Homo sapiens: one gene and its partner. The protein of the gene in region 1 purifies or fractionates together with the protein of each later gene. This does not show direct contact. Each region holds a gene or a part of one and is shown in the gene's direction. Other genes may lie near its edges.

What was found.
Region 2: the proteins of VPS8 (region 1) and TTK purify together in Homo sapiens (affinity purification with mass spectrometry; one large-scale study listed by BioGRID and IntAct). This does not show direct contact.

The regions. Positions count from the first base shown.
Region 1 is NC_000003.12:185,045,887-185,049,680, forward strand, and holds part of VPS8 (vacuolar protein sorting-associated protein 8 homolog), read left to right. Parts: intron 1-2,592; coding exon 2,593-2,673; intron 2,674-3,794. UniProt on the Homo sapiens protein: Plays a role in vesicle-mediated protein trafficking of the endocytic membrane transport pathway.
Region 2 is NC_000006.12:80,021,502-80,025,326, forward strand, and holds part of TTK (dual specificity protein kinase TTK), read left to right. Parts: intron 1-822; coding exon 823-971; intron 972-3,825.

The DNA.
Region 1 (3,794 bases):
TGCTGGCACCCCATGTTAGCCCAACACCCCTCTCCCTGGGGCTCTCAGAGATCATCAGGACCTCGTTTTCCACAGGATTTCCTTTAATGCTGAGTACTACAAGGTCATTTCCAGGGTTGCCACTGTTTCTTCCTCTCGTATTCACTACAGTTTAATTTTTAGCTCTTAACACTGGACTTTGTTACATGGGAAGAAAGAAATTTGCTCTAACAGACAGCAGCAAATGCATTTTTCCTTCTCTTCCAGTTGGAAAATCACTCCTAACCAGTTTTATCCTTGGGGAGGTTTAGTGGTCTGAGAATACTTTTATGTTTTTGGAGTGAACAGAGATTATGTTCATATTTGGTTGCTTCCCCTTTATTTTTTGTCTGACCTTAATTTGGCATCTGTAGACGGAAACTGTTACTTATCTTCAGGGCTGCCATGTATCTTTGTGACATTGCCCCTAATTTGCTTCTGAATATGCAGTAAAAGATAAAAGCCATGATTAGGCTCAGTAAACATTACTGTTTTTCTTGAAACTTTCATGCCCTAAATGCCTGTTAATCTCATGGTGCCCACCTCTTCCCTGGATGGTGGAGTGTGGCCTGAGGTGGCATTGCCCTTTGATCAATTGGAACAAAGACTCAGAGGAGAGATGTGACCTCCTCAGGTTATACAGGGAGCTGGTAACAGGATTGGAGCCCATGTTTCCTGATTTCATCCCATTGTTCTTTCTAGGGGGACACTTCTCTCTGGGAGTATAAACAACACAATCGCAGTAATTACTGCCATTGATTGAACATCAAATAGATGCCAAGCCCATACATTATGTCTAATTTTCATAACAATTCTGCAAAGTAGAGTTTTACAGATAAAGAAACTGAGACTGAGAGAAGCTAAATTCCTTGCCCAGAGCCACTCACCTAGTCTTGGGCAGAGTCCAGATTGAGCCCAAGTGTGTCAGAGCCCTGCCCTGTGTTCTTACTGCATGGCGAGGGTTGGTCACAACGCCAGTGATAAATAGTAAGAAATCAGAAATCTGCATGCCGGCCCTCCCATCCCTTCATTTGATCAGCAGATGATGACTCTGTGGCTGCTCTGTGCAAGCACAGTACTGGGCACTGGTGAGCAAGACAGAGGGAGCTGACCTTAGCAGCTCTCATTTCCATAAAGTTTTCCCTCTCACACTCGGCATACCCTCTCCTGCACATCCCCCAACCTCCTTCATTACCCAGTTTTGCCTGTGCACGTTGCTCTGATGTCCCCTTCCTTTCTGTTTCTGTAGCCACATCAGGACGAGGGCCACATGATGTTGCTTCTTGGAGACTGGCTCTGTGCGCAGTACCTGCGGGCCTTCCTGTGCTCTCTAGTTAGTAGCGCTCAGTGAGAACTTGCAGAGTCCCGTGCATCTGCTACGTGTTCTGTGTGCATTACCTTCTTGAATCTTCATAGCCACTTTATGTGATGTAGCTATAGTCATTATCCCCATGTGAGCAAAAACAAACAAACAAGCAAAAAGTACCCAACTCGGAGAACTTGCCTAAGATTATGCTGCTAGTAATTGCTAAAGCCAGGGTTTGGGCTTAGGCTGATGAACTCTGCAGTGCAGGCTCTTACCCACCAACCTGTGCAGTGCAGACGCTTGGGACAGGTTCATGATATAGGGCAAAGAAAAACGTCCTTTTACCAATCTTATACATAAACAAAAACACTTCTGAAATCAACTTTTAACTATGGGTATCTCTGAATTGTAAGAAAAGCTAGCGTATACTGAGCCCTCGCCTGGTACTAGGCAGGCGACACTTTAAATATATATCTCATTTAATTTTTGGTAATCTCAAAAGGTAAGCATTACCCCTTCCTTCCCACAGGTGAGGCAATTGAGGCTTAGAGAAGTGAGGTGACTTGCCTAAAGTTACATAGCAGGTTACTGTCAGAACTAGTATCCAGATTCTCCTCTGACTCCAAAGCTTATGGCCGCCTCCCCCAGGATCCCATTTCTTCTCTCTGCATATGAGCTGGATCAGGTCCACTGAGAGAAGAACCGCAGTTTGGCAGGTCCCACCACAATAACAGGTGGAACAAAACATGGCTGCTGTAAGAGCAGGCTAGACCGGCCCTTTTCCCAAAAGCAGCAGACGAATCTTGCAACCCCATAGGTGGCGACCAGCTTTATAATGAGACAGGGATGAGATTTTTAAATGACAGTGCGTCTCCTGTTACCATGACAGAGAAAAGCGGTATCTTTGCTGGCCGTATGAAGTGATGGACATGGGAATGCAAGGCTGGAAGGAACTAACTAGCTCTGCATAATGGTGCCAAAGAGGGATCAAGAAACCTGAAAGGAACCTATACATACGGGACATTTGGAGACTCCATTGGGAAAAGGGTCCACAGACAGGTCAACCTGCAGCCACACCAAGGAGGGATCTTAGGGGACGTGCCGATTTCTAACTCATGTTCAGTATATATCTCACTAATAGCTGGTAGCATGGATTGTTTTCAGGAGAATGAAGGAAGCACCATGTTATGCTTCAGCATCGTGTAGAGCAAGTTGAGAGGCTGCCTAGCCACGTGATGTTGTTAATCGTATCGGTTTTTATTTTTCAGGGAACCTCAGAACCTGTTCTGGATCCACAGCAAATCCAAGCATTTGATCAGCTTTGCCGTCTCTACCGAGGAAGCTCCAGGGTAATGTTTGCGTGGTTGTTTATATTTTTATTTCCCTATTTATAGTTTACTGCTTTAGACAGGCAGTGTCTTGGAACCTCCCTCTAGCCTCCTTCTAGCCTGGAAGGTGCCCTGGCATCCCTGTTATGGCTACATGGACAACAGACCCTGGCCCCAAGGAGCACTCAGAGCTTGGCAAAGAGAGCAAAGGAAGTAGAAAGCTGTCTGTCCCCTACGTACCATGAGCTGTGAGGACACAGAAGGGCCTCTGTGTTTGACCTCCCTCCAGAGAGAGCAGGCCAGAAGGTTGATCCCAGGAGGGCTTTGCTTAGGATATGGATAGGTGCCCAATCTGTCCGAAGCCCTAGACCCTCCTGGGCATCTGCACTGGTTGAATTAGTTTTGGCCATGAAAGACAAATGCAAAGTAGTAGTGGTTTAAGCAAGAGAGAAGTGTAAATGCAGCCAGCCAGGGCACATCCACGTACCTCCCTTCAGCTTTCTTCTGTCCTGTTGCTCTGCCTTCCTTAGCACATGACTTAAACTCGTATGGTTCAACATGGTTGCTTCCACTTACCTCCACTGTCTAGAATTTAGACCCATGACCATACCTCACTGCAATGGAGACTGGGAAAATTGATTTTTATTCCAAAAGACCTTGGGCTACAATTCTTGGTCTAATCTAACTGTGGAAGAAGAGTACAGACTGGAGGGCTTCTATCAGTCACTGCCACCACATCAGACCGGGTGTCCCCCAGGCACTTTGGACATGTACTCATCGCTTTCTCGACCTGTTCTTCATGCCTGGTGCCTGCCTCAGGAATGATACCTCTGTCATCCAACCACCTAGAGCAGAGACCTGGCAGCACTAGGCTCACTCCTCACCTTCCTGCCACCTGACTGGGGACATCCTGTGGGATCTTGTCTACTAATCCCTCTTTTACCACTACCCCGGGTGGGGCCTCCTTATCACTCACGGAGGCCACTGCAGGTCTTCTGATTGGCTAGAAACCCTTCTGTCCCCTCTCCATGCTGCTGCCTGGCTACCCTTTCTAAAACCAAGTATGTCATGTTACTCCCTTGCTTATAACACATTCTGGATCTCCACCACCTAAAGAATGAGTCCAAACCCTACCATCTTCT
Region 2 (3,825 bases), on another chromosome or scaffold:
TGTGGTGGAAGGAAAACAGTTTTATTAATCAAATGCTAGCAGCTGGGGACTGGCCAGGCTCATGCCCTCAAAAGACCATTTCAACTTTTTGGGCTGAGTGAAGGGGTTTAAAAAGGAAAAGGTGTGGAAGAGATGCAGGAGTGGTGCAGGTCTGAATGTCTTGTTGTGATAGTTATATTGAGTAATTGCCCATCTGGAGGTATGGTTTGTGTCATCTTGACTTCAGCTGGGTAATGCTAGGCTAACTGTTCGAAACTCCCCCCATGCAAGAGGAGTCTGCAACTCCATCTCTGCTTGGTTTGTTTCAAAACTGGCCCCTGAAATTTCTAAGCAAGTACGTAATTAGATAAGTGAACACTGTTCATGGACATGCCTGGTGGGAAAGGGAGAAACTAAGGGTTTCAAAGTATGCTTCCAGGCTGAAAGCAAAAAGGAAAAAAAAATGTTCTAAATTGCATTTTGAGGGTTGGATACTCGGTCTATGAAAAGTGATGAATTAGCTTCTCTATTAGTAAGACTTTATAACATCTATATGTTTTTAAATTTTTACTTATTTATTGGTAAAGAAGCATTTAAATGTGGCAAGGTCTCTGACAAAGTTCTTAGTAACAATGTAGGAAGATGACTATAGTGCAACTTTGTGAAATTGACTTGCTAAAAGCAAATTGTTAAGCAGCTGGCTTAAAGCTTTTAGTTTCTCTCCCTCCTTGATTGTTTTTAAGAACTAAATACTCATATAGTTTGTAATATGTTCTGTTGTTTAGGCTTAGTTTATTATGATCAAATATTCTTGCTTTTTAATGACAACAAATACAATTTCAGAAACTAAAGAGTATCAAGAACCAGAGGTTCCAGAGAGTAACCAGAAACAGTGGCAATCTAAGAGAAAGTCAGAGTGTATTAACCAGAATCCTGCTGCATCTTCAAATCACTGGCAGATTCCGGAGTTAGCCCGAAAAGTTAATACAGAGGTAACTTTTCCACTAAAGTACAATATTGCTTTTTTGTTCATAATGCATTTCCGAAGGTTGATGATCATATTAAATGTTTTCTTTTATTAAATGTGTATGATATTTAGTAGAATAGTTTATTTAAAGGTTTTTAAAATCATTTATAAAGTGGTGATCAGTAGCAGTCATACGTTCAGTAAGTCAGGCTAAATTATTTTCTATCTTCGATAGTGTTTCTAGATTGCCGATAGACTGGTGCTATGGGCCAAATCTAGTTCTTAGCCTGATTGTGTAAATAAAGACTTACTGGAACACTGACACACTCATTCATTTAATGTCTATGGCTGCTTTTGCATTATAAGAGCAGAGTTGATTAGTTGTATTAGAGACCACTTGGCCTGCAAAGTTTAAAATGTTTACTATCTGGTCCTTTACCGAAAACTGTATGCTGATCTCTGAACTAGCGCAGTGCTGTCCCAAGCACTTAACAGTTTCCTGTGGTCATACTCATTGATAAAAATAGAAAAATATAGCCTAGACAACGTACATGAATTTGTAACATACTGAGTCATCATTCCTGGTGGCTTTTCGGAAGGAATGATCAAGTAGGATACTAAAGAGCTATAGCTGCAGTTCATGGCCATAGTTTCCTTACCATTTCTTTTCAGTGACTTGTAGTAAATATAGTAAAGGCTTTATTAATTCAGTGGTTCTCAAACATTTGGCCTTTTATACTCTTAATTATCAGTGCCCCTAAAGAGCTTTTGTTTATGTTGATTATATCTATCTCTATTTACTATATTAGGAAGTAAAGCCAAGAAACTTTAAAAATGTTTATTAATTTATTAAAAATAACTGAGGGCTGGGCACGATGGCTCACGCCTGTAATCCCAGCACTTTGGGAGGCCAAGGCGGGCAGATCACGAGGTCAGGAGATCGAGACCATCTTGGCTAACATGGTGAAACCCTGTCTCTACTAAAAATACAAAAAATTAGCCGGGTGTGGTGGTGGGCGCCTGTAGTCCCAGCTACTTGGGAGGCTGAGGCAGGAGAATGGTGTGAACCCAGGAGGCGGAGCTTGCAGTGAGCAGATATCATGCCACTGCACTCCGGCCTGGGTGACAGAGCGAGACTCTGTCTCAAAAAAAATAAAATGAAATAAAATAACTGATAAACTCATGTGAATATAAATGTACTTTTATGAAAAATATGTATTTTCTGAAACAAAATAACTACAGTGGGAAGAGTAGCACTGTGTTAGAGTTTTTACAAATCTAATGATTGGCTTAACAGAAGACTAGATTCTTATGTCTGCTTTTGCATTCAATGTATTTCATTATTACATGTCATACAGTCTCTGGAAAACTCCTTATATACTCATGAGAAAATAAAAGTGAGAAAGGTAAATATTGTCATAGTAAGATCTCTTAAGTAGTAGATGTAGATAACAAATGCTAGATGATAAGGATCCTGATAGGTTGAGTCATAGATTGTATCAAACCAGCATCTCCTCTTTTTTTTCTATTTGAAAATTGTACACTAATAGGATTGTAAGGGAACTGAAAACCATATGGATCATTAAAGAAATGCAAAGCAAAACCATAATTAGATACTACTTCACACCCACTAGGACGGCTGTAATTCAAGAGACAATAACAAGTGTTGGCAAGGATGTGGAGAATTTTAGAACCTTCATATGCTGCTAGTGGGAATGTAAAATGGTGCAGTCATTTTGGATAAGAGTCTGGGAGTTCTTCAAAAGGTTAAACGTAGCTTTATATGATCCAATAATTCCACTCCTAGGTTTGTAGTTAAGAGAATTGAAAACATACATCCACACAAATATTTGTACATAAATATTCATAGCAGCATTTTCATAATTGCCAAAAAGTGGAAATAACAAAATATCCAACCGATGAATGGATAAAGAAAATGTGGTACATCCATACAATGGAATGTTAATCAACAATAAACAGTAATGAAGTACTAGTACATGTTACAACATAAGTGAACATTTACAACGTGCTAAGTGAAAGAAGCTCACCACAAAAGCCCATATATTTTATGATCCCATTTAGATAAAATGGTCAGAATAGGCAAATCCATAGAGGTGGAAAGTAGATTAGTGGTTGCCAGGGGCTGGGAGCAGTGGGGAGTGGGGAGTGATTGCTAATGGGTGTGAGTTTTCTTTTTAGAAGACGAAAATATTCTAAAATTGGATTGTGGTGATGGTTGCACAGCTGTGAACCACTGAGCAACTAAAAACCATTGAATAGTACACGTAGAAAGAAAAAGTATAGAATCTAGGCAGTTTCTTGTGGATACTGCTTGTCCAGCAGTCCCTTCAAGGGAGGATTGTTTTTGTCTCACATCTCACTTACCATATGGCTGTGTGCTCTCTGTTCTGTGTCCAGACCATTTCTTCCTCTTTCTTGCAAAAGGCCTGCTCTTTTGATACTTCTGACTTACTCTCATCTCTGAATGTCCTGGTAACTCCCCATCATTCCTTGAAGATACAAGGCTCTGGATCAACCAGATCCCAACAACTGTCATTGTTTTTGTTGGCTTCTACACCCCTGTGTATTACCAGTCCTACAGCTGGCCTTCATTTTTCTAACTTCTTCGTGTCTCATGACCATTTCCTTAATTTTACTTTAGCCACCTACTCCTTATATCCTCAATTCTGACCTCCAAAATCGCAGATGCTAACATTCCACTCTATGATCGTGATCTTTTTCATTTTCCTTGTTCATTAATCTTATTACAGCAGTTCCTCAGTAACATCTTTACCACTAATCTTAAAATATGTGCGTGCTTGTACGTGAGCACAGACACACGAAGTCTTAAATGAGAGGGAAAATTTATCCTGGAAAAA